Linked DNA regions of Homo sapiens: all the other regions are linked to region 1. Evidence: fine-mapped expression QTL. A gene starts in region 1. Each other region holds a variant in brackets. All regions are shown on one strand. Distances are between the middles of the regions. Region 1 holds the start of PYGB (glycogen phosphorylase B). Region 2 overlaps NANP (N-acetylneuraminic acid phosphatase). Region 3 overlaps LOC107985400 (a long non-coding RNA gene). Region 4 overlaps PYGB (glycogen phosphorylase B). Region 5 overlaps GINS1 (GINS complex subunit 1).

Region 1 (5,102 bases):
AAGGACTTAAAATTTATTTAACCAGAGTAACAAAGAATTAAAAGTCAATCCAGTAAGAGAATATATAGGCCTTAAATCAGCATCCATTAGTGAAGTCTGTGGCCTCTAGTTTTTCTTACTAAAACTTACTCCACTTACAAAAGAAATATTGTGGAAAAAACAGGAAATACAAAATGTATGGAGAAAATAAGATAACCCCCCTGATAATTCTTCCATTCAGAAATAACCAGTGTTTAGGTTTGGATATACACCTGTGTTTCTAACACAGTAGTCCCTAGCCACATGTGGTTATTTAATTTAAATTTAAATTGACTAAATGAAAGTAATATTCAAATCATTACTGTCATTTCTGCATTACATCCTTATTTTTGTGTTTCATTTATCAGTATTGTGTCATCAATCACACCTTCCTAGCTAGCTATTAAAACAGTCATTCCTTTTAGCAGCACAATGGTTTATGATATTAACTTTGAGCACAGATACATTTTTCTGGGCTTGTGCAGTGGAGCAGGGCTTGGCTGGGGTGAACCTTGGCTGTTTCCCTTATTAGCTGTGTGGGCTTAGGGAAGAGTTAACTTCTCTGTGGCTCACCTTCTCCATTGTCAAGCGGGGGTAATAGCAGGCTATTTGCAGGGATCAGGAGTTAATACGTGTACACTGCAAGTAATGATCAATAAGTGTCAGCGCCTCCATTCTTTGCCAGGTGTGCACCACAGCTGGGGGATTAAACTTTACCACACCACAGCAGATAACATATTTGCATAACTTGCTTTTTGTCTTCTTAAGCTTTCCTTGAACTCAATTCCCCAGAGTGGTAGAAGTGGTCATAGGGCACTATCATTTTTATGACTTCTGAATTGCCAGATCACCCTCAGAGAGATTGCATCAGTGTTCGGAGCTTGCAGCCAAGCTCGACCCCACAGCCCTGCCATCTGTGCCCGAAGTTCGATCTTGTTGGCTCCAGAATCCCTAGGACATAGTGCAGGAGTGAATCCCGAGCTGGAGCTGGGTGGGCTGTGGGGTCATTCCAGATTGATTAACCTCCGACCTCTGAAGTCTGCAGCTGGAAGGGGCTCCAGGTAAGAAGATAACTTTGAAGCATCACACCAGGAAACCTACTGCACCTGGACTTTCATGACATTTCCTGCGGGCAATTTTTACCTCCACGAAATTCAGTAACCTTTGCAGCCCCTTCAGCCCAAGACCACCAGGAGCAAACCTGTGGTCCACAAAATCGGGTGTACTGACCCACTGCAATGAGGGAGCGCCTCCCAAGAACGAAGGGAAAGGCAGAGTTTGAAGGGGTTGAGGGAAGGCAGAGTTTAGGTGACCTTTACATGAAGCAGGGTTCCCACAGGCTGAGGCCAGCAGGACTGTGTTCCGCGGGGCCAAGTGTGGGAAGCTGTGTGCAGACGCCCCCTATCTGGAGCTGCAGCCTGGATTGGGATGACAGAGGCTAAGTCTCGGTTAGTGGCTGAGCTCCCCGGCCAGACGGGCATGTTTCCTTCTCCCTGCTGTAATCTCAAAGCGGACAGCGTCTGCCAGGTGGTTTCGGGAACAGGGTTTCTCCGAGGGCTAGGGGGCTGCGGTCCCTCCGAGGCGGGGTCGTGGTGGCATTTGGCTGTGGCTGCCTCGCGCCCTCGGGAACGGGCGTCTCCAGCTCGCTGGCAGCTGGTTTTCTCCACGTCTGTCATCGGCCTGGAGTGGCAAGCAAATAGCTGGTATTTTCAGAGCCGCCCTGCCCCGGACAGAGAAGACCGGGCCCAGCAGGCGTTGGTGGATGCCTTTCAAGCTGTAATCAGTTTCCCCGAACGTGTACCAGGTCTCGGCCACAGCCCGAGCCCAGCGCGCTCCCGCGGGGCACCTGGTGACCCGGTGCAGGGCGGGAGGGCCGGTCCCAGGAACCCGAGGGCCGGAGGGCAGGGCCCCCTTCCCGCACCGTCCCCGGGCTGGCAGGAGCGGCCACGACGGCACGCTCCGAGGCCCCGGGTCCCTTGCCCCCTCCAGTCGCTCCCACTTTCTGCCGGGCTTGCCCAACGAGGGGGCAAACACCACGCTCAGGTGGCGTGGACAGGTCGCTGCCGCCTCGGACTACACCAGAGATCTCAGCTATGAGCCTGGACGCCCGCCCCGCCCTCCCGAGGCCCCGCCCCGCCCCCCGAGGCCCCGCCCCGGCGCGGCGCGCAGGCGCGGTCCATCCCGCCCGCAGAGCCGCAGTGCCGGGCGCCAGAGCAGCGGCGCCAGAGCAGCTGCACCATCCCGGCGTTCGCGTGTGCCGCCGCTTTCCTCCTCCATCTCTTTTCCTCCGCCTCCGCCGGCGCGATGGCGAAGCCGCTGACGGACAGCGAGAAGCGGAAGCAGATCAGCGTGCGCGGCCTGGCGGGGCTAGGCGACGTGGCCGAGGTGCGGAAGAGCTTCAACCGGCACTTGCACTTCACGCTGGTCAAGGACCGCAATGTGGCCACGCCCCGCGACTACTTCTTCGCGCTGGCGCACACGGTGCGCGACCACCTCGTGGGCCGCTGGATCCGCACGCAGCAGCACTACTACGAGCGCGACCCCAAGGTGAGGCGCTGCCCCGCCCTGTGCGCCCGTGCCCGCTGAGAGGGCGCCGGTCCCGGAGCCGCGCCAGCGGGGGTCTCTGCGGGGCGGCCCGTCGGGCGTTACCTGCGCCCCTAGCCGGCCGGCGGCCAGGCACAGCCGACTGGGGAGTCGCCTGGAAGCCGCAGTCGGCGGGGCCCGGGCGTCCCCTGCGCAGGGCCGCGGCCACGGGTCCGCCCCACTGGGAGCCCGCGCCTGGCGGGGTCCGCCGTCCCCCGCAGATGATGCTGAGCCCGGGAGCCTGGCGGACGTTCCCGGTCTCTTTCTGGCCGTGCGCTTCCGCGCTGGCTGCAGAGCCGGTGCTCCCCGCCCCTGCCTCCAGCCACTCTTTGTTTTCCTGCAGCAGCCTGTGGGAGAAAATGGGACTGGAACCAGGCCTGGGCAGCCTTGTGGGTTGGAATGGGGTGAGCTCGGTAATCTGCAGGGAATTGTGAGACTTTTTTTTGTGTACGCTGCTTAGAAGAAAATCACTGAAGATGCCTGCTTCACGCAGGGAGGGGTACGAAGCTCAGAGATGGAGATGGAGCCCTCGAAGAAGGCTCTGTCTTAGAGGTTCCCACACCTCCCTTGGAGAAATTTGCTTGGGTTGAAGTTGACAGAGATCATCTTACTAATTGTTACTTTTTATATCTTGCAAAAATTTGTTTGAGTAGTGAAACAAAGTCACTGATTGTCCCCGTTACTCTTAACCATGTTTACTATGGGCCTGTGTTCTTGCTGTGTTTTTGGTATTCCTAAATATACATACACATTTTTAAAAAGTATAATGCACATACAGTTTTTTAGATTTTCTGTTTCATTCGTAAACATTTGTAACTTTTTCACTGATAAACAGCTTTGCAGGTCAATGGATAGGATGGTAGTTTTCAGTTTGATAGGTACATGGTAGTCTTGCACAGCCCCCTGTTGCCAGTTTTTTGTTGTTGTCGTTTGCTTTTAAACTCTTGACCATGGAGAATTGTCTTTCTACTACACTAACGTAGAGGGAGAACTGGTGAGGAAAAGACACACTTCCAGACCTGAAGCCACTTGGCAAAGATTTTACTTGCAGTGTACATCTAGGCAGTGAGCACTTGCTTTATGGATGGTATTTTAGAATATTTTTGTAGGGCATTAAGATATGTTTAATACGGTAATTGCTAAGAGATTGACTGCTTTTCCAAACTTATTCTGGGACATTCTTTTTTCTAAAATGGAGATGGTAAAAGGGACAGATTTGTTAGAATACCAACTGGGGCTCTTCATATTTGGTATGCAAAACATAGAAGTGGCAACGAATGGCCAAAACAGGTTATAACAAGGGCTTGGGATGACTTTGCCAGGAAAAGCAGCCAAGAAGCAGTGGCTCCCCCAGAATTCCCTGCTGTTGGGAGAGTTCTGATGCACAGCACCATTTTTTTTTTTTTTTTAATTCTGAGTCTTGCCCTGTAGCGTGAAGCTAGAGTGCAGTGGCGCGATCTCGGCTCAGTGCAACCTCCGCCTCCCGGGTTCAAGCAATTCTCCTGCCTTAGCCTCCCAAGTAGCTGGGATTACAGGCGCCTACCACCACGCCCGGCTAATTTTTTGTATCTTTAGTAGAGACGGGGTTTCACCATGTTGGCCAGGCTGGTCTCAAACTCCTGACCTCGTGATCCGCCCGCCTCGGCCTCCCAAAGTGCAGGAGTTACAGGCGTGAGCCAACGCACCCGACCCGCAACATCATTTTTATTGTCTAAGTGGCGGATGGCAAGGACATAGCTCTGCCTTCACATTCAAGGGCATTTCCTTGGAGCTGGACCAGGACTCAGCTCTACACCTTAGGGTGCCCATTGGAGTATTTATGTATAATCACATCCTGGAGAGGCCAGCGATGGGCTCAGGGATTACGGAAATGACCTTCATGAACAAGATAGTCCCTGCAACAAAACAGGTTTTTTGATCCTCCGTGAGATCTCTTTTGATTGTCTACGTGTGGTGGCTCTGGGTGGAAACCTTTCTCTTAAACCGCACAGTCTGTAAGTCGTAAAGTTGTAAACTTTTAGATCTCACAGTGTGTAAATAAGCTGTGTGCCTATTCTGAATAGGAAGGACATGGAAAATTGGGATTTAACTGCTTCTTTCGCTAATTCATGATGAAAATAAGCTTGCAATCCTTTCTTTGGAAAAGTTACATGCTTGCTGGTGATGGACCAGCAACCAGTCCCACCAGAGCCAATGAGAGGAGGTGTGCTCCCAAGAAAATAACTGCTGTGCCTCCCCCTCAGCCAGAAATGACCTCAGACATTCACCGGCACACTGCAGACTGTGGTAATGTGACACTCTAGAGCTCCTAAATAGAACGCTTTTATTGTTATTTTTGTCTTTTTTTAAATTATGCAAGTCCTGAAGGAAAAATTATTACTGGAGGAAAAATTAGAAAATATAGATAAGCCAGAAGGAAAAAAATTAACTGTAATCCTGTAACCCACTTCTATCGCCCACTTTGTGCTGTAAATATTTTGTGTTCTACATTGTTTTTTCCG
Region 2 (5,102 bases), 370 kb after region 1:
GGTTAATTTTTGTATTTTTAGCAGAGACAGGGTTTCACAATGTTGGCCAGGCTGGTCTCGAACTCCTGACCTCAAGTGATCTGCCTGCCTCGGCCTCCAAATTACTAGGATTACAGGCGTGAACCACTGTGCCTGGCCCAATTCTGTACTTTTTTGTTTCTGGATACAGAGTCTCGCTCTGTTGCCCAGGCTGGAGTGCAGTGGTGCAATCTCAGCTTACTGCAACCTCTGCCTCCTGGGTTCAAGTGATTCTCCTGCTTCAGCCTCCCGCGTAGGTGAGACTATAGGTGCCCGCCACCATGCCTGGCTAATTTTTGTATTTTTAGTAGAGGCGGGGTTTTACCATGTTGGCCAGGCTAGCCTCGAACTCTTGACCCCAAGTGATCTTCCTGCCTCTGCCTGCCAAAGTGCTGGGATTATAGGCATGAGCCACTGCGCCCGGCCCCAATTCTGTACTTTTGAGTTAAATACTCCCTCTTCCTGCGTTCCCAAGGCTCTTTATGTGGCTTTTATAACACTAATCCATTTGGCCTGTCTTGTAACTTTTCCTAAAACCCCTAATGTGGCAAGCATTGTACTACATACTTACATACATTATTTCTAAACTTTTCTACAATCCTGCAAGACAGTTCCATGTTCCAAATTAGGCAGGGAAGTGCAGAACTGTTAATAACTCGCCCATCTGGGATCTGCATCCATACCTGCTTACTTCCAAAGCCCACATGCTTGCCTTTGCACTATGTGTTAAGCACTAGAGACTGGCCTTTGTCGTTGAGGCATTATCTGGTGGGGAATATAATATACAACCACTACAAATCATGGGCCGGGGGTGGGGGAAATGCCATGACAGTAGTTTGAACAAGCTGTGGGAATAATATGGAAGTCATTCCACAGGGTAGCTGGCAGAGGAAGTCACATTGAGACCAAGGAGTAAACAAGCAGAAAAAGCGGGTTTGGGAAGAGAAGAAAATCATTCCAGACAGAGGAACAGCATGAACAAAGGCCAAGAGTTTAAAATTTTGTGGAAAAAGCAAGAAGCTGAGTTGAGCCCAAATGGAGGCATGTGAGGGAAGATGCCAAGAGATGCAACTGGGGAACCTGTTCACAGATAGTTTGTGAAGGGCCTTGAACCCCATGTTATAGCAGGTGCTGCCTAAATCCCCTTGGCACACACTATATTCACTCGCCAGTGGCTTCCCTCTCCAAGTATGGGCCTCTCTGCTTGTGGGCTTTACTTGGCCACACACAAGGGTATCTATACACACAGGATGGGGCTAAAAAGTATTGCCCTGGGAGCAGCCCTCAACAAATGTAGGGCAGAAACTGGCGAATAAATATCACAGCTTCCTTGCCCCTTGGGGAGCAAAACTGAACCCTGTTCTGTGTACTGTCCCCCAGAAATCTCCAGCTGCTCACAGCAGTAACCTGGTCATTAAGCTGCTCTAACCCGTATTGGACTCCTTCCCCTTCTTGTCTCCCCGACCCCTTAACGTGTATCCTGGGATCGCCTCAAGAACTGTCTGCACTGGAAATCCTGTGTTCAGGTGAGCACCTGAAGAAAGTCAAACATGCCAGGCAATGCTGGCTCTTTGAAATGCACCCAGCTACAGTTAAAATATATCTGTTGTAATGGGACTAGGGAATAAACAGTATGCCACTCACACCAAAAACTCAACTCACCTACTGAGAGAGGAACGCATGTGTTTTTCTTCCCTCAGAGTAAAAGAATCACAACAAAGGAAAAGGGTCTTTTTTTTTTTTTTTTTTCCCCAAACAGGATCTTGCTCTGTTACTCAGGCTGGATGGAGTGCAGTAGAGGAATGATTATAGTTCACTGTGGCCTCAAACTCCTGGGCTCATCTCACTTCAGTCCCCCGAATAGCTAGAACTACAACTGCACACCACCATACCCAGCTAATAAATTTTTTTTGTAGAGACGGGTCTTGCCATATTGCCCAGGATTGTCTTTAACTCCTAGCCTCAAGCAATCCTCCTGCCTTGGCCTTCCAAAGTGCTGGGAATTACAGGTGTGAGCCACCGTGCCTGGCTGAAAGGAAAATATTTTTTGAGGTATTTGTGCTAATCAGAAAATGTATCAGAAGACTTGGCCATATGAGAAAAAAAAATTAAAGAAAAAAGAAAAGAAAATGTAATCATTAAGAAAAATCTTATCTGCCCAAGAAAAATATACCAGCCCTAGGAATTTTAGGTAAAGGCAAAACGCTGTAAATTTTTGCTTTATACATCTCTATGAACAAATAAAGCTTTCTCAATCTCCATGTTTATCTCACCATCTTTGCTAGCAACATCAATTGAAGGACTCTTAAGCTATGATTGACAGGAGCTCCAAAGTTTCAGCAACCCTACAGCAGTGCAAGGACACATGCCTCTAGGACTCCACAGAGCTTGCGCTTAGATACGGGCTGGCTCATAATCAGCTCCTATACAGACCCAATTTCCTACTGGCTCCCAGTACAGACCCAATTTCCTGTTACTTCAACTGGCACTTCATTAAGCACATTCTTGGGGCTCTGAAAAAGCAGGATTTGCTCACCTTAAAAGGGAGATGTTTATAAAGGCATGGTATGCCAC[G/A]CCCAAGTTTCAAAATCTCTTCCTATTCTATCCCTTCAATTAACTTCCTCATTTTGTCATACAGCAACTAATTACAGGTTGGTATGCGACAATAAGTAGCATTTTAACAATATTAACATCTTTAGGAAAAAAGTTTATCAGCATTCATTTATTAGTTCAAACAGAAATTAACACCTACCCTGAATTAGTATGCGTTATTACAAACTCTCCTAACACCTGCACTGAAAATGGGAGTATTGATTGAATTGGAGGTGAAGGAAAAAGCTCTCTAACTTGGAGGCGTGATGATACTTTGTGTCTGACTGGTAAGGCAGGGCTGAAAAAGATTTTGGTATAAAGAGCCCACAAGGTGCTCGCTGGCCTGAAGAAAGGGGCCCTGCTCTGACAGAAGGGCTATCCGTTAGTAGATCAATATGAACTCAAACTTCACCCACTTCAAAACTCTATTTTAAGGCTCTCTCTGAACGTATACGAAAAAGGAAACTCTATTCTTCTGTCTGCTCCCTAGACCCAGAACTAAAGTTAGTATCATCAATACTTTAGTTTAGCTAACTGATTTTAAAAGACTTTTTGAGGGCTTAGTTTGGAACCATCTAATACTTTACAACACTTTAAGAAAAGTGTATTCTGAATACTAATCATTTGGATATGAAGCGTATAGCAGGTGCACCTGACAGCACTAACTTACGCACACCCTTAGAATGACCCTGTGGTCTATGAGGAATGTGTATTCGGGTTCCAAGATAAGGAGTCCAGGAGTGTCCAATCCAGAGATTCATTCCTTATTTATGAGGAGGATCTGAACCATGGCCCATCCCATCCTGCGGAACTCAGGTTGCAGAGGGGATAGAGGCCCCCCTTTTTTTTTTTTCCATTAAATGAAGGTAGCCAGGAGGAGGTTGCTGCAGGGAGGGTGCTAAGTGAAAATGCTATATAAACTGCATTCTTTTTACAAGTGGCTGCAGTTCTGTCCAGCCCGCCGCCAATGGACCGTCTTGTATATAAGTTCCCTCAAAAACCGTTCCTCATTTGCTGGCTCCGGGTCTCATCTTCAGCCTCTTGAACATGGTGCTATCCCTACTGAAATCAATAGGGATCCAGCACGACAGAAGGGGATGAATTCCAAATAAAACTATTAACAATTTTAAAACACGCTCACAAAATGAGGCCTGCACTCAGCCTAGCAATTCAAGCAGCGCTTCTGTTATTTTTATTTCAAGTCTGTGCACAAACATCACCTACTCGATGAGGCCAAATCTGACCAGTCTATTTAAAATGTTGATTTGTTACCCTCTCTGCTTTTTCTATCACACCTGTAAATATTTATTATGTTCACTGCCATACCCACTAAGAAGTAAATTCACAAATGCAGAAATCTCTTCTGCTTTGTTCACTGAGAAACTCCAGGCTTCTGTAGAAAAGTTCCTCTTGAGTAATTACCATGAAAAACAGGTCTAAAGAGGGAGAAAAAAAATAACTTCCCTAGGTGATTAGAAAAAATTAAAGTTGATACATACAGTCAGTATATGACCTCTTCTCCCCAAGCCCAAGGCCATAAATGGCTGGACCTTTCCCTCTTCCTCCATTCATAAATTATTATTATTTTTTGAGACGGAGTCTGGCTCTGTCGCCCAGGCTGGAGTGCAGTGGCGCGATCTCGGCTCACTGCAAGCTCCGCCTCCCGGGTTCACGCCATTCTCCTGGCTCAGCCTCCCCAGTAGCTGGGACTACAGGCGCCCGCCAACACACCCGGCTAATTTTTGTATTTTTAGTAGAGACGGGGTTTCACCGTGTTAGCCAGGATGGTCTCCATCTGCTGACCTCGTGATCTGCCCATCTCGGTCTCCCAAAGTACTGGGATTACAGGCGTGAGCCACCGCGCCCGGCCCATTCATAAATTATTTACAATGATTTGTAATTATAAAGGAGGCAGTAATAGAACCAAGTCTCGAAGTAAAAATTTGTATCCATCCATCCAGCATTTATTCAACATTTGCCATGTGTCAAACGAGGATAATTAAGACAGCTTGTTCCCTCCCAAGAAGCTCACTATTTAGTAGTAGGCACCTGAGTTGCAAAATTAATTGAAATATCCTTTGACAGATGCATTAAGAAATATCTGAACAAAATACAGCACTACTATAAGTGAGGGTGTAAAGACCAGGGAGGCATACGATTTAGTCTTTGTTTTAAAAATATTGCTGTGGCAAGAATGTGGAGGACACACTGGATGTGGTAAACCTGGAGACAAGCCCACAGCAACAGTCTAGGTGAGAGATGAGTTCAGCTGTAACTGAGACATGCACGGGGCATGTGCAGTGGTGGACAGACAGCGTACGAGGGTGGAAGGTGCTATAGTTCGCTGAGTGGACACTGCAACCATGGGCTTCCCAAGTATTACAGGGTTATTGAGGACTAATATAATTCACATTTTATGAAGATATAAGGCTCCGAGTGGTTAATTCCTTGAGGCACTTTCAGCTAGGTTTTGGGAGAGCTGTGATTCATAT
Region 3 (5,102 bases), 450 kb after region 1:
AGGATAATACTGACCTTATAGGATGAGTTTGGAAGTGATCCTTCTTTCTTTCTTTTTTTTAAATAGTTTGCATAGATTGATACTAGTTCTTTATAAAATGTTTGGTAGAATTCAGCAATGAAACCGTCAGGTCCTGGGCTTTTCTTTGATGGGATACTTTTTAATACTGCTTCTATCTCATTTGTTATTAGTCTACTCATGTTTTGGATATTTTCATGGTTCAATCTTAGGTTTTATGTATCTAGGAATGTATCAGTTTCTCCTAGATTTTCCAAATTAATAGCATATAGTAGCTCATAATCATTTCTAATGATCCTTTAAATTTCTATGGTATCAATTGTAATGTCTCCTTTTTCATTTCTGATTTTATTTGTTTTGGTCTTCTGTTTTTTCTTAGTCTGGCTAAAGGTTTGTGAATTTTACCTTTTTTAAAATTATACTTTAAGTTCTGGGGTACATGTGCAGAACGTTCAGGTTTGTTACATAAGTATACACATGCCATGCTGGTTTGCTGCAGCCATAAACCCAGCATCTACATTAGGTATTTCTCCTAATGCTATCTCTCCCCCAGACCCCCACGGTCCGACAGGCCCCAGTGTGTGATGTTCCTCTCCCTGTGTCCATGTGTTCTCATTGCTCAACTCCCACTTATGAGTGAGAACATGTGGTGTTTGGTTTTCTGTCCTTGTGTTAGTTTGCTGAGAATGATGGTTTCCAGCTTCATCCATGTCCCTGCAAAGGACATGAGCTCATCCTTTTTTATTGCTGCATAGTATTCCATGGTATATATATGCCACATTTTCTTTATCCAGTCTAACATTGATGGGCATTTGGTTTGGTTCCAAGTCTTTGCTATTGTGAACATTGCTGCAGTAAACATACAAGTGCATGTGTCTTTATAGTAGAATGATTTATAATCCTTTGGGTATATACCCAGTAATGGGATTGCTGGATCAAATGGTATTTCTAGTTCTAGATCCTTGAGGAATTGCCACAATGTCTTCCACAATGGTTGAACTAATTTACACTCCCACCATCAGTGTAAAAGTGTTCCTATTTCTCCACGTCCTCTCCAGTATCTGTTGTTTCCTGACTTTTTAATGATCACCATTCTAAATGGCATGAGATGGTATCTCATTGTGGTTTTGATTTTCATTTCTCTAATAACCAGTGATGATGAGCATTTTTTCATGTGTCTGTTGGCTGCATAAATGTCTTCTTTTGAGAAGTTTCTGTTCATATCCTTCACCCAATTTTTTTTATTTTTATTTTTTGTAAATTTGTTTACCTTCTTTGTAGATTCTGCATATTAGCCCTTTGTCATATGGATAGATTGCAAAAATTTTCTCCCATTCTGTAGGTTGCCTGTTCACTCTAATGATAGTTTATTTTGCTGTGCAGAAGCTCTTTAGTTTAATTAGATCCTATTTGTCAATTTTGGCTTTTGTTGCCATTGCTTTTGGTGTTTTAGTCATGAAGTCTTTGCCCATGCCTATGTCCCGAATGGTATTACCTAGGTTTCCTTCTAGGGTTTTTATGGTTTTATGTCTTACGTTTAAGTCTTTAATTCAACCTGAGTTAATTTTTGTATAAGGTGTAAGGAAGGGATTCAGTTTTAGCTTTCTGCATATGGATAGCCAGTTTTCCCAACACCATTTATTAAATATGGAATTCTTTCTACATTGCTTGTTTTTGTCAGGATTATCAAAGATCAGATGGTTGTAGATGTGTGGTGTTATTTCTGAGGCCTCTGTTCTGTTCCATTGGTCTATCTCTCTGTTTTGGTATCAGTACCATGCTGTTTTTGTTACCGCAGCATTGTAGTATACTTTGAAGTCAGATAGGGTGATGCCTTTGTCCTTTTTTCTTAGGATTGTCTTGGCTATACGGGCTCTTTTTTGGTTCCATATGAAATTTAAAGTAGTTTTTTTCCAATTCTGTGAAGAAATCAGTGGTAGCTTGATGTGGATAGCATTGAATCTATAAATTACTTTGGGCAGTGTGGCCATTTTCATGATACTGATCCTTCCTATCCATAAGCATGGAATGTTTTTCTGTTTGCTTTTGTCCTCTCTTATTTCCTTGAGCAGTGGTTTGTAGTTCTCCTTTAAGAGGTCCTTTACATCCCTTGTAAGTTGTATTCCTAGGTATTTAATTCTCTTTGTAGCAACTGAGAATGGTAGTTCACTCATGATTTGGCTATCTGTTACTGGCGTAAAGGAATGCTTGTGATTTTTGCACACTGATTTTGTATCTTGAGACTTTGCTGAAGTTGCTTATCAGCTTAAGGAGATTTTGGGCTGAGATGATGGGGTTTTCTAAATATGCAATCATGTCATCTGCAAACAGAGACAATTTTACTTCCTTTTTTCCTAACTGAATACCCTTTATTTCTTTCTCCTGCCTGATTGCCCTGGCCAGAAATTCAAATACTGTGTTTAATAGGAGTGGTAAGAGAGGGCATCCTTGTCTTGTGCCAGTTTTCAAAGGGAAGGCTTCCAGCTTTTGCCCATTCAGTATGATATTGGCTGTGGGTTTGTGATAAATAGTTCTTATTATTTTGAGATACATTCAGTCAATACCTAGTTTACTGAGAGTTTTTAGCATGAAGGACTGTTGAATTTTGTTGAAAGTCTTTTCTGCATCTATTGAGATAATC[G/A]TGTGGTTTTTGTCATTGGTTCTGTTTATGTGATGGATTACGTTTATTGATTTGCATATGTTGAACCAGCCTTGTATGCCAGGGATGAAGCTGACTTGATCGTGGTGGATAAGTTTTTTAATGTCCTGCTGGATTTGGTTTGCCCGTATTTTATTGGGGATTTTCACACTGATGTTAATCAGGGATATTGGCCTGAAATTTTCTTTTTTTGTTGTGCCTCTGCCAGGTTTTGGTGTGAGGATGATGCTGGCCTCATAAAATGAGTTAGGGAGGATTCCCTCTTTTTCTATTGTTTGCAATAGTTTCAGAAGGAATGGTACCAGGTCCTCTTTGTACCTCTCATAGAATTTGGGTGTGAATCCATCTGGTCCTGGACTTTTTTAGGTTTGTAGGCTATTAGTTACTGCCTCAATTTCAGAAGTTGTTATTGGTTTATTCAGGGATTTGACTTCTTCCTGGTTTAGTCTTGGGAGAGTGTATATGTCCAGGAATTTATCCATTTTTTCTAGATTTTCTAGTTTATTTGCATAGAGGTGTTTATAGTATTCTCTGATGATAGTTTGTATTTCTGTGGGATCAGTAGTGATATCCTCTTTATCATTTTTTATTGCATCTATTTGATTCTTCTCTCTTTTCTTCTTTATTAGTCTGGCTAGCGGTCTATCTTCTTGAACTTTTCAAAAAGCCAGGTCCTGGATTCATTGATTTTTTGGAAGGTTTTTTTTGTGTTTCTATTTCCTTCCGTTCTGCTCTGATCTTAGTTATTTTTTGCCTTCTGCTAGCTTTTGAATTTGTTTGCTCTTGCTGTTCTAGTTCTTTTAGTTGTGATGCTAGGGTGTCAATTTTAGATCTTTCTTGCTTTCTCTCGTGGGCATTCAGTGCTATAAATTTCCCTGTATACCCTGCTTTAAATGTGTCCCAGGGCTTCTGGTACGTTGTGTCTTTGTTCTTATTGGTTTCAAAGAACATCTTTATTCCTGCCTTAATTTCGTTATTTACCCAGTAGTCATTCAGGAGCCAGTTGTTCAGTTTCCATGTAGTTGTGTAGTTTTGAGGGAGTTTCTTATTCCTGAGTTCTAATTTGATTGCACTGTGATCTGAGAGACAGTTTGTTGTGATTTCCATTCTTTTGCATTTGCTGAGTAGTGTTTTACTTCCAATTATGTGGTCAATCTTAGAGTACGTGCGACGTGGTGCTGAGAAGAATGTATATTCTGCCGATTTGGGGTGGAGAGTTCTGTAGATGTCTATTAGTTCTACTTGGTCCAGGGCTGAGTTCAAGTCCTGGATATCCTTGTTAATTTTCTGTCTTGTTGATCTGTCTAATATTGATGGTGGTGTGTTAAAGTCTCCCAGTATTATTGTGTGGGAGTCTAAGTTTCTTTGTAGGTCTCTAAGAACTTGCTTTATGAATCTAGGTGCTCCTTGTATTGGGTGCATATATATTTAGGATAGTTAGCTCTTCTTGATGCATTGATCCCTTTACCATTACGTAATGGCCTTGTCTCTTTTGATCTTTGTTGGTTTAAACTCTGTTTTGTCAGAGACTAGGATTGCAACCCCTGCTTTTTTTTTCCTTTCCATTTGCTTGGTAAATATTCCTCCATCCCTTTATTTTGAGCATATGTGAGTCTTTGCACATGAGATGCGTCTCCTGAATACAGCACACTGATGGGTCTTGACTATTCAGTTTGCCAGTCTGTGTCTTTTAATTGGGGGCATTTAGTCCATTTATATTTAAGGATAATATTGTTTTGTGTGAATTTGATCCTGTCATTATGATGCTAGCTGTTATTTTGTCAGTTAGTTGATGCAGTTTCTTCCTAGCATGGAAAGTCTTTACAATATGGTATGTTTTTGCAGTGGCTGGTACTGGTTGTTCCTTTCCATTTTAGTGCTTCCTTCAGGAGCTCTTGTAAGGCAGGCCTGGTGGTGACAAAATCTCTCAGCATTTGCTTGTCTGTAAAGGATTTTATTTCTCCTTCGCTCTCCTTTGCTTATGAAGCTTAGTTTGGCTCAATATGAAATTCTGGGTAGAAAATTCTTTTCTATAAGAATGTTAAATATTGGCCCACACTCTATTCTGGCTTGTAGGGTTTCTGCTGGAAGATCTGTTTTTAGTCTGATGGGCTTCCCTTTGTGGGTAACCCGACCTTTCTCTCTGGCTGCCCTTAACATTTTTTCCTTCATTTCAACCTTGGTGAATCTGAAGATTTTGTGTCTTGGGATTGTTCTTCTCGAGGAGTATCTTTGTGGTTTGTCTATATTTCCTGAATTTGAGTGTTGGCCTGCCTTGTTAGGTTGGGGAAAGTTCTCCTGGATAATATCCTGAAGAGTATTTTCCTACTTGATTCCATTTTCCCCATCACTTTCAGGCACACCAATCAAATGTAGATTTGTTTGGTCTTTTCACATAGTCCCATATTTCTTTGAGGCTTTATTC
Region 4 (5,102 bases), 42 kb after region 1:
TGAGACTGGTCTGGGCAAAAAAGTGAAACCCCATCTGTACTAAAAGTGAAAAAATTAGCTGCATGTGGTAACCTGTCGGTGCCTGTAGTCGCATCTACTTGGGAGGCTAAGGAGGGGAAGATCACTTGAGTCCAGGAGTCTGTGGCTGCTGTGAACCCGGATTACACCACAGTACTCCAGCCTGGGTGGCAGAGCTAAACCTTAACTCTTAAAAACAAAAACAAACAACAACAAAAAAAACCCAAGAGTGGTAGAGTGCGAGGCGCGGTAGCTCACGCCTATAATCCCTGCACTTTGGGAGGCTGAGGCGGAAGGGTTGCTTGAGCGTGGGAGTTTGAAACCAGCCTGGGCAATGTAGAGAAACCCTCATCTCTACAAAAAATTAAAAAATTAGCTGGGCGCAGTGGCACGTGCCTAGGATCCCAGCTACTCAGGAGGCTGAGGTGGGAGGATTGCTTGAACCTGGAAGGTAGAGGCTGCAGTGAGCTACGCTTACACCACCGCACTCCAGCCTGGGCGACAGAGTGAGCTGCTGTCTCAAGAAACAAAACCAAACAAAACCCACAAGTGTGCCCTTCATGTACAGGGGCCTTGAACACTGGTGACCAGACCCAAGGAGGCTCCTGTGTTGGGCTTTTCTGGAAACTGAGGTGCAGCTTTTCCTCTGAGCCCCGGGGAATAGCATCTTTGCTCGAGTCAGCTGCTGGGTTCGTCCATGGTCCTGGCTGGCCTTCCTCACCAGCGGGGAACCTAAGTGCAGACCTCAGGGTGGCCTCACTCCCTTGTAAGTGGCAGGTTCCTGGTGGGTGGGCAGGTGGGTGGCCAGTGGCCCTGTGCCACTGTCACCCGTGTCTCTGGGGCTTGAAGTACATGGCGGAGCGTGCCTGTCCTGCCTCAGGGTCGGCCTCTGATGCTGCTGGGCCCCAGCAGGGGCTCGTCCGGCTCGCGGTGCCTTGTGTGAGTCTCTTCCGTGTGTCCTGCAGGAATCAAGAGAGACCCGGCCAAGGCTTTTGTGCCCAGGACTGTTATGATTGGGGGCAAGGTGAGTGACTTCCTCTGCAGTCCTCTCTGTGGTGTTTGGTCTGGGGATAGTGGGTGGGCAGCCTGCACGCTTCTCATGGTGCCACCACATCCATACTCGGGAACCGGATGCCCAGCGGTCACCGGCCCCTCTGGTATGCCTGTGGGGGTGGGGACCCTGTAGAGAGTCAGAATGGGATGGAAGCCTCCTGCCTGCCCAGCTCACTGGAGGGGTCCCCAGCCTAGAGGGCCAGTCCCCAGTGGGCTTGCTGGTGCCCACCTCAGAGAGGGCAGTGTCCTTTCTCTTTGTGCCCAGTGGGCACAGGGCGTTGTGGCTGCTTCATCACCTGCACATGCCCTGAGCATTGCCTGGTTTCAGTTCACTTTATTTACTATGACACATACTTTCAGAGTCCTAGATGTGCTGTCATCGAGTCCCAGGTCACATCGTCACACTCATCAGCCCTCTGCGGCCAGTGTCCCCACCTCCTGCCATGTTTCCCTAGTAGCTTGGTCTTTATCCAGAACTGTGAGGCTGCTGTGGGGTGCAGCGTCCTTAGGAGGGTCCTGCTGGAGCAGTGGCCCTAAGTGAGTCTGGACTGTGTGAGGCACCCCAGCCCTCCACGGCAAGGCCGGGGCCTGGGGGTGCTGGTGCCTGTGTGCAGCCTGAAGGCTGCCCTCTTGCTGCCTTCAGCGAGTGGGAAGCTGGTCAGAGGGGTGGGCACTCCTCTGGGCTCCGCCACCTCCTGGCACACCCCATTTGGTCTCTGTCCACTCCTGTCACCTGCTGTTTTTGAAGCAAATTTTGGAATTGTGTCATTTTATTTGTCAGTATTTCAGTATGTAAAGTCCATAGAGATACGGAGTTCGAAAAAGTTTTAAATGTTATTATGAAAATTTTAGGCTGGGCACGGTGTCTCACGTCTGTAATCCCAGCACTTTGGGAGCCAAGGCGGGTGGATCGCATGAGCCCAGGAGTTCGAGACCAGCCTGAGCAGTGTGGTGAAACCCCATCTCTACAAAAAAGTGCAAAAATTAGCTGGGCGTGGTGGTTCATGTCTGTAGTCCCAGTTACTTGGGAGGCTGAGTAGGAGGATCGATTGTCCTGGGTGATTGAGGCTATAGTGAGCTGTGATTGCACTACTGCACTCCAGTGTGGGCAGCAGAGCCAGACCCTGTCTCAGCAAAAAAAAGAAAAAAAAAAGAAGGAAACATTTGAACCTGGAGAAAAGCAGGAAGAATTGTAGCAAAACCATAAACCTGTCACCCAGACTAGCTGAAGCATTTCACAGTAAACTGCAGACACTCTAGCTCTTCACTCTTACATACGTCAGCATTCCTTTTCATAAAATGATGTTTTCCACCAGAACCACAATGGGAGTAGACTGAAACATCACCACACAGTACCACCATCCGTCACACCTAAAGCATTGGACAGGAGTCCTCCGTGTCCTGAAATGTTCACTCGGGTACTTCATGGGTCCCCTGCCCAGTTGTCTTTGTAAAGTAACAGACATTTCTAAAAGTTGGTCTGAGTGAGGGCCCAGTGAGTCCTCACCTTGGACTGGCCGTGGTGTCTCAGTTCTCTGTAGGTTTTCCCCACAGTCTGTCTGTTACAGACATCGGGTTGTCTGTCCGCCGTAGCCTGGCTCTTTCCGAATGTGTCCCTCCAGTGTGTCCCAGTATGTCCCTAGGGACAGTTCTCTGTTTCCTGTCAGTCGGCAGCTCTAGAAATCCTGGTCTCTTTTACCTTGTAATTTCTGAAAACCTAACAACAACCAGAAAACCAGACTTGAGGCGGACACGTTTCTGGATGTGGCGAGGTGGCCACCATCGTGAGTGCGCAGCAGAGCTGGGGCCTTGGGGCCGGGGAGCCTCCCTAGCTCCTCTACTGACCGTCCCGACGGCAGGTTCCTGTGGCTCTAGCCTCACCCC[C/G]CTACAGACCCCAGGAACCAGGAGCGCCTCCAAGGGCCTGAACAAGGCATTTTTGTGCTAAAAACCTTCACCCTCTCCTTCCAGGCAGCGCCCGGTTACCACATGGCCAAGCTGATCATCAAGTTGGTCACCTCCATCGGCGACGTCGTCAATCATGACCCAGTTGTGGGTGACAGGTTGAAAGTGATCTTCCTGGAGAACTACCGTGTGTCCTTGGCTGAGAAAGGTAACCCTGGAAGCCTGTGTTGGACAGAAAACTCACTCCTGCCGGGGAACGGGCGTTGTACTGGCCCCGGGCCTTTCATCCTCAGCCAGTTCAGCTCTGCCTGGACACCCAGACCTAGCCAGCCGGGCTGCAGGCGAGCAGGGAACGGCTTTAGGGAGTGCTCCCCGTGCAGTGCGGAGGACTCACAGTGCGTCCCGGGGCGCCTTGCATGTCACAGGCAGTGTCATCCCCCAACAGGGCACCCTTACTGCCGCGCCTGCCTGGCCTGCCCTCTGTATCCTCCCTCCCCTGCCCTCTCCTCCTGCCCCTCAGCCGTGCCTTCTGCCCTGGGCCCCTCTGCTGGCAGGACCTGCCTGGCCTGCCCTCTGTACCCTCCCTCCCCTGCCCTCTCCTCCTGCCCCTCAGCCGTGTCTTCTGCCCTGGGCCCCTCTGCTGGCAGGACATGCACCAGGCCAGTGGGGTTGTGGGCCCCCAGCTTCCCCCAACTCCACTGCCCCTCCTCCGCCCACATCCTTGCTCCTCACTGCCTGCCTGCTCTTGGGCCCACCAGTGATCTCAGGTGGCAGCACCTGCCTCATCTGTGCTTCCTGAGGGCAGCCTGGGCCAGTCCTGGGGAGACCCTGGGATGTGCTGCCATGTGCCCTGGAGCCCATCAGTTCCCACCCCTGTGGGCTCTACTGGGCAGGAAAGTGATTTGCCCACCAGATGGTGGGAGATCTGAGCCTGGCCTTCTCGTGCTCCCCTCCTGCCGCCGAGGGCCAAGGGCCCCCCCTAGTTCAGGCCGCCTGGGCTTCCCAGGCTGCCGCAGGTGAGAGGGCTGATCTGCTGTTGTTCTGCAAGCTCCGTGGTGCAGGGGGGGATCCCTGGGCACCGTCCCTGTGGCCTGGCTGCTGCCTTGGTGTCCATGTCGCTCCCCCTCTTTAGTGGTGCCTGGCAGGCGAGGTCCCTTGAGGCACTCACGGGCCGGCTTGCCTCCGGCTTGGCCAGGAACTGTGGCTCGTCCTTCCCTGCTCCTCTGACCGAAGCATCTCCTCTCCCCCGTGCTGCCTGAGGCTCCCCTCCTCCTATGTGTTTTGGGGCCAGCTGACTCCTGCTCATCTTTAGAGCAGGCCTTCAGGCACCTGGTCTGGAGTCTCGGTGCTGGCGTCAGGGCCCCGTTCTCCCCGGCAGTGTTGCTGTGGCTGACTGGGCTGCAGCCTGAGGTGAGGGTGGAGAGCAGGTTGTATAGTCAGTGTGTGCACTCACAGCGTGTCTGGGAGCGGTGACCAGTCCTGAGGGACAGGCACAGAGAAAGCGCAGGGCCGTGGCATCTGGCAGCTGCTGGCGCCCAGGAGGTCGCCACCCCTCAGCCGCTCCAGCCTTCTGGCTCTATTCTGGTCTACATTCCTCCTGAAAGGATCCAGGGAGCCGCTGGGGCTGATCAAGGTCGCGGTGATCCAGGGAACGACATTGTCAGCGAGCCAGGACTGGCTCCTTGGCTAGGCCTGGTTTTGGGGAAGGTTTTGGTGCACAGATCCTATGCCACCTGGCTCCTGAGGAGCCCCCATCTTGGACCTTCTGCCTCAAGGATGCCCCAGTCACGAAGGGGAGCCCTGCAGAGGCGGGTGGCCGTGTCCAGCCTGGGCCCCTGTGGGAGCGGGAGTGGGGGCTGGAGCGGGGCCACAGCATTGGTCCCTCCACGACCCAGCCCCGGGTGGATGGGCCGGCTTGTCCTGCAGTGAGCCTTGCGGCTGAGGACATTGGGGTCCTCACAGTGATCCCCTCCACGGGCTCCCCTCCACAGTGATCCCGGCCGCTGATCTGTCGCAGCAGATCTCCACTGCAGGCACCGAGGCCTCAGGCACAGGCAACATGAAGTTCATGCTCAACGGGGCCCTCACCATCGGCACCATGGACGGCGCCAACGTGGAGATGGCCGAGG
Region 5 (5,102 bases), 200 kb after region 1:
GAAGCAAATGTTGCATATAATAAAAGATTCATTAATTTAGTAGGATATTGCTTATATTTAAAACTAGGTGTTTTCTAGGGGAATTACCATAATCAGCCTTATTCTGGGTAAGTGATAGATTATTATCTGGAGGCTATTGAACTGTTGGATTTAGCTCCTTTGTTCATATAATTTATTCTAAAAGTTCCTAAGCAGTTTTTTTAGCTTACACTTTGCCTTATAAATCCTAGTTCTTTAGCAAGCAAATAGTGATACAGATTTTTCTGTTTTCAAAAGAAGAATTTTCAAGTATTTGGTATATAAACATAACAATTTAATAGAGGAAGATTAAAATTGTAAAGTTGTAACTTAAGCTAAATTTGTCCTTATAAGGAATCTTTATCCATCTATCTATCTATCTGTCTGTCTGTCTGTCTGTCTGTCTGTCTGTCTATCTATCTATCTATCTTTAAAGAAAATAGAGATGGGGCCTTGCTATGTTGACCATGCTAGTCTCAAACTCTCCTGGGCTCAAGCAATCCACCTTCCTTAGTATCCTAAAGTGCGAGGATTACAGGTGTGAACCACCATGCCTTAAGTAATCTCAGTATATTAATTATTTCCCTAGAAATCTTCATATTCACATTAGATGAATTCACGTTAACTATATTATTACTATTATTATTATTATTTTTTTTTTTTTTTGAGACGGAGTCTTGCTCTGTTCCCCAGGCTGGAGTGCAGTGGCGGGATCTCCACTCATTGCAACCTCTGCCTCCTGGGCTCAAGTGATCCCCCACCTCAGCCTCCCCAAGTAGCTGGACCACAGGCACACGCCACTACACCCAGTTAATTTTTGTAATTTTTGTAGAGACGGAGTTTCACCAGTTGGCCAGGCTGGTCTTGAACTCCTGAGCTCAAGCAATCCACCCACCTCAGCCTCCCAAAGTGCTGGGATTACAGGCTTAAGCCACTGTGCCCGGCCACTAAATTTTTTATCCTATCCCAATTTTCTGAAGTCGTGAGGAGGAAAAATGACCTAATAAAAGCTGTTCTCTTTCTTTCCTTGCCTGCTGTCTTGGGGTCAGCCATTTAGGATCTGTTGACCCTAAGGATTTGGTGTTCACTTTGTTCATGCCAGGGAGCAAAAGAATGTTTCAGGTCATGTGGTTCTTGAGCTTATTTTCCTAACAGGGTGAGTTGATCTCTTATTTTACTAATACCCTTGGATCTTTAAAACTATTTTACTAATAGTTGACTAAAATTATTTTACTAATACCCTTGGAGCTTCTAAAACAAAGGTTGAATATTTTTAAAAAAGATTTTGAGGGTTCCCTAAAGTCTTCAGTTGTTAAGGCAACAATTTCTGTCCCAAGTATTCTCTTAGGACACTAATGAATTTAAAGCAGATAATGAATTAATGCTCTGATAAGCAGCTATATTTCTGGAGGGCCCAGGAGGAAGCTCTGGCACAAGAACAAGAAAAAAGCCATCCTCATAAAGCAAGATATGTGAAATGTCCCTTCATCCCAAATGCTGTCCTGTGGTTGAATTTCTTTTTTTTTTTTTTTTTTTGAGACAAAGTCTCGCTCTTGTCCCCCAGGCTGGAGTACAGTGGCATGATCTTGGCTCACTGCAACCTCTGCCTCCCATGTTCAAGCTTTTCTCCTGCCTCAGCCTCTCAAATAGCTGGGATTACAGGCGCCTGCCACCACGCCTGGCTAATTTTTGTATATTTTTTAGTAGAGGCGGCGTTTCACCATGTTGGCCAGGCTGGTTTCAAATTCCTGACCTTAGGTAATCCGCCCACCTCAGCCTCCCAAAGTGCTGGGATTACAGGTGTGAGCCACCGCACCTGGCCTGGTGGTTGAATTTTTTAACTCTGTTTCTCAGCTGTGACCCTACCCTCAATTATAAAAATGGAGGCATGAAAAAGAAACAATATCAGCCACAGTTGATGGTTGGTATTAGGGGCTTCTAATGTTCAACCACATCCAAACTTTCTGTAGAATCTGTGGTGTAGATCATTCACATACTCTAAAATATTAGTAGGAAACAT[T/TTATCTATC]TATCTATCTATCTATCTATCTATCTATCTATCTATCTATGGTTTTTTTCGAGATGGACTCTCGCTCTGTCACCCAGGCTGTAGTGCAGTGGCGTGATCTTGGCTCACTGCAACCTCTGCCTTCTGGGTTCAAGCAATTCTCCTGCCTCAGCCTCTCGAGTAGCTGGGATTGCAGGCGTGTGTCACCATGCCTGGCTAATTTTTGTATTTTTTTTAGTAGAGGCGGGGTTTCACCATGTTGATCAGGCTGGTCTCAAACTCCTGACCTCGTGATCCACCTGCCTTGGCCTCCCAAAGTGCTGGGATTACAGGCGTGAGCCACTGCGCCTGGCTGGGAAACATTTTCTAATATACATTCTTTTATATTTGTCACTATGGCAAGCACTGTTACTTTTTATCCAGAAATCAATACTCTCCATCTGTTTAATACCAGCATTAGTATGGACATTAAATGAACAACTCAGTTATTTTGTTTTTGTTGTGTTTTTTTACATTTTTCTTGGCTCATGTATCTTCAAGATTGGTTTAGAAGAATTTGGTCATGGGTCTCTTGCCAGGCCTTTGAGTTTGTGAGGCAGGACCTTCAGGTGCACATGGCTACTGAGGTTACATTTTGCTTCCTTGAGATCTTCCTTTGAGATTTCTTTGACCACCTATGAATTGAAAAGCCTTCCTGCCTTGCTTCCTTAACCTCCCTCCTCCAAGGCAGTCAGTGTTTTCTGTAAGTCCTGGTATTTGAGAGGGAAGGAGACATCTTTCCACCTGCCCCTGGTTCCCTCAGAGCAAGAGCGATGTCCTCTTAGGAAGACACAGGACAAGCAATACCTGGGTACCGGCATCTTCCCATGTACCATGTGAATAGCACCCACGCGGTGGGTCATGAATACTTTTCAACCTTGAGACATACAGGAGGAAAGTTGTCACTTGTTATTAGAAGAATGTTCAGACTCTGAAATCCAAGAACAGGTTTTATGGAGAAATGAGCGTTTCATGGGTCTTCTTGATAGGCTGTTGAGCCAGTGATAATCCAAATCGCACCTATCTGGATTTCTCTGTGCATAAATTTTAAAAATATAAACACTAAGTACAATACCTACTAGAATTCAGAAGTCTTAGTTGAATTGAACTTAAGCAAACTGAATTCATTTGTAAAAGTCAGAATTCCATACAGCTCTAAATGGAATCAATTTCAATGGATTAAAACAGCAAATATAGTTTAACTTTTTTTTTTTGAGATGGAGTTTTGCTCTTGTTGCCCAGGCTGGAGTGCAATGGCACAATCTCGGCTCACCCCCAGGTTCAAGTGATTCTCCTGCCTCAGCCTCCTGTGTAGCTGGGATTACAGGCATGCGCCACCACGCCTGGCTAATTTTTTTTTTTTTTTTGTGACAGAGTCTCACTCTGTTGCCCAAGCTGGAGTGCAGTGGCACGGTCTCGGCTCACTGCAAGCTCTGCCTCCCGGGTTCACGCCATTCTCCTGCCTCAGCCTCCTGAGTAGCTGGGACTACAGGTGCCCGCCACCATGCCTGGCTAATTTTTTTGCATTTTTAGTAGAGACGGGGTTTCACCGTGTTAGCCAGGATGGTCTTGATCTCCTGACCTCGTGATCCACCCGCCTCGGCCTCCCAAAGTGCTGGGATTATAGGCGTGATCCACTGCCCCTGGGCCAACTTTGTATTTTTTAGTAGAGACGCGGTTTCTCCATGTTGGTTAGGCTGGTCTTGAACCCCCGACCTCAGGTGATCCGCCTACCTTGGTGTCCTAAAGTGCTGGGATTTCAGGCATGAGCCACCGTACCCAGCCCCTTAAGTTTAACTTTCAACTACTTACTTGTTGGAGTTTGAAAACTAATCAGTGCTACTTTTTAATGATACAAGAAATAATTTCAAATTCTTTCCCAATCATTTATTTTACTCTTTCTCCATCCCTTCTTGTCCCCTCAGCACTTTTTACCTCGATGGAAATGTGAGCAGCTGATCAGACAAGGAGTCCTGGAGCACATCCTGTCATGACCATGCGCCGAGGCACTTCCAGGCTTCACTCAACTCATGGACTCCTCTGTACTCACTCTCTCCACCACTCCCTTCACCTCCCTCTTTGATTTTAGAAGCTATAGACATTGTTTAAGATAACTAAGAATACTTGGCTAAGAAGTATAATTTGCTAACTATTAAGGACTTTCTTTTTTTAATGTTGTACACTATTCTTCCTACTCTTTTTTGGTTTTGGTTTTGTTTTGTAGAGACTGTCTCACTATGTTGCCCAAGCTGGTCTCAAACTCCTGGCCTCAAGCAGTCCTCCCACCTTAGCTTCTCAAAGTGTTGAGATCACAGGCGTGAGCCACTGCACCCGGCCCCTACTCCTTTTTCTAATAAGCTGTATCTGTAATCACAGCATTCCTACAGTTGTTACAGTGTGTTTTTTAAATGAAAGTAAACATGGTTACATTTGAATCTCTTAAATAAGCAGTCACTTGGCTGGACAGGAAGAAGGTAGATCCTGTGTGTCTTGTTTTCTGGTCATGTGTATTGTACAAGCTAGAGAGCTGAATTTCTGAGATACACATTTTCAAATCACATGCAAGTGAAGATGATGGTCTGTAGAAATTTTCAGTATATATAATGTTTAATGACATACTAATTTATCATCTGGCTATTTGGGAAGGAAGGACACACATGGATTTTGCACATTTCCACCATGGTGGCTGGTGTGGCTTGTGGCTATGGGGTGATCACCAGTATCACCACTTTGGAAGGGGACAGTGAAATTGGGGCTAGAGAAGGAACTTTGTACAGTTTTCCCTGAGATTCAGATTGACTGAAAAGTCACATGAAGAGTTGATTGTCTTTTAATGGTATGTTTTAAACAGCTGACATTTTAAATTTTGATGAAATCCAGTTTATTCGTTTGTTCTTTTATGCTTTGGGTGTTGCATCCGAGAAATCTTTTCCCATCCCAAGATCACAATTTTTTTTCCTTTTTACTTCTAGAAGTGTTATAATTTTAAGCTTTATACTTTGGTCTATGACCCGTTTTTTTTTTTGTTTTGTTTTGTTTTTTCGTT

What was found. PIP is the estimated chance that this variant, and not a neighbour inherited with it, causes the effect.
Region 2: its variant is fine-mapped to the expression of PYGB in whole blood (INTERVAL, PIP 0.96).
Region 3: its variant is fine-mapped to the expression of PYGB in whole blood (TOPMed, PIP 0.94).
Region 4: its variant is fine-mapped to the expression of PYGB in whole blood (INTERVAL, PIP 0.92).
Region 5: its variant is fine-mapped to the expression of PYGB in B cells (Fairfax 2012, PIP 0.95).

The regions. Positions count from the first base shown.
Region 1 is chr20:25,245,857-25,250,958 of GRCh38, forward strand. PYGB (glycogen phosphorylase B) reads left to right here and starts at 2,229. Exons shown (of 20, transcript NM_002862.4): 1 at 2,229-2,565. The coding sequence starts at 2,323. RefSeq lists silencers at 1,261-1,514, 1,533-1,612, 1,793-1,982, 1,993-2,182, 2,493-2,872 and an enhancer at 2,263-2,342.
Region 2 is chr20:25,617,373-25,622,474 of GRCh38, forward strand. All of the region lies in intron 1 of NANP (N-acetylneuraminic acid phosphatase), which reads right to left. Among named protein-coding and RNA genes, the nearest start is that of NANP, 4.1 kb to the right of the region's middle. The variant G/A (reference allele first, on the strand shown) is at 2,593.
Region 3 is chr20:25,700,292-25,705,393 of GRCh38, forward strand. The region is part of intron 1 of LOC107985400 (a long non-coding RNA gene); the gene reads left to right. Among named protein-coding and RNA genes, the nearest start is that of ZNF337, 6.0 kb to the left of the region's middle. The variant G/A (reference allele first, on the strand shown) is at 2,660.
Region 4 is chr20:25,287,442-25,292,543 of GRCh38, forward strand. It overlaps PYGB (glycogen phosphorylase B), which reads left to right. Exons shown (of 20, transcript NM_002862.4): 15 at 984-1,042; 16 at 3,040-3,181; 17 at 4,965-5,102. Among named protein-coding and RNA genes, the nearest start is that of PYGB, 42 kb to the left of the region's middle. The variant C/G (reference allele first, on the strand shown) is at 2,956.
Region 5 is chr20:25,441,942-25,447,043 of GRCh38, forward strand. It overlaps GINS1 (GINS complex subunit 1), which reads left to right. Exons shown (of 7, transcript NM_021067.5): 7 at 3,982-5,102. The coding sequence ends at 4,050. Among named protein-coding and RNA genes, the nearest start is that of GINS1, 37 kb to the left of the region's middle. The variant T/TTATCTATC (reference allele first, on the strand shown) is at 2,039.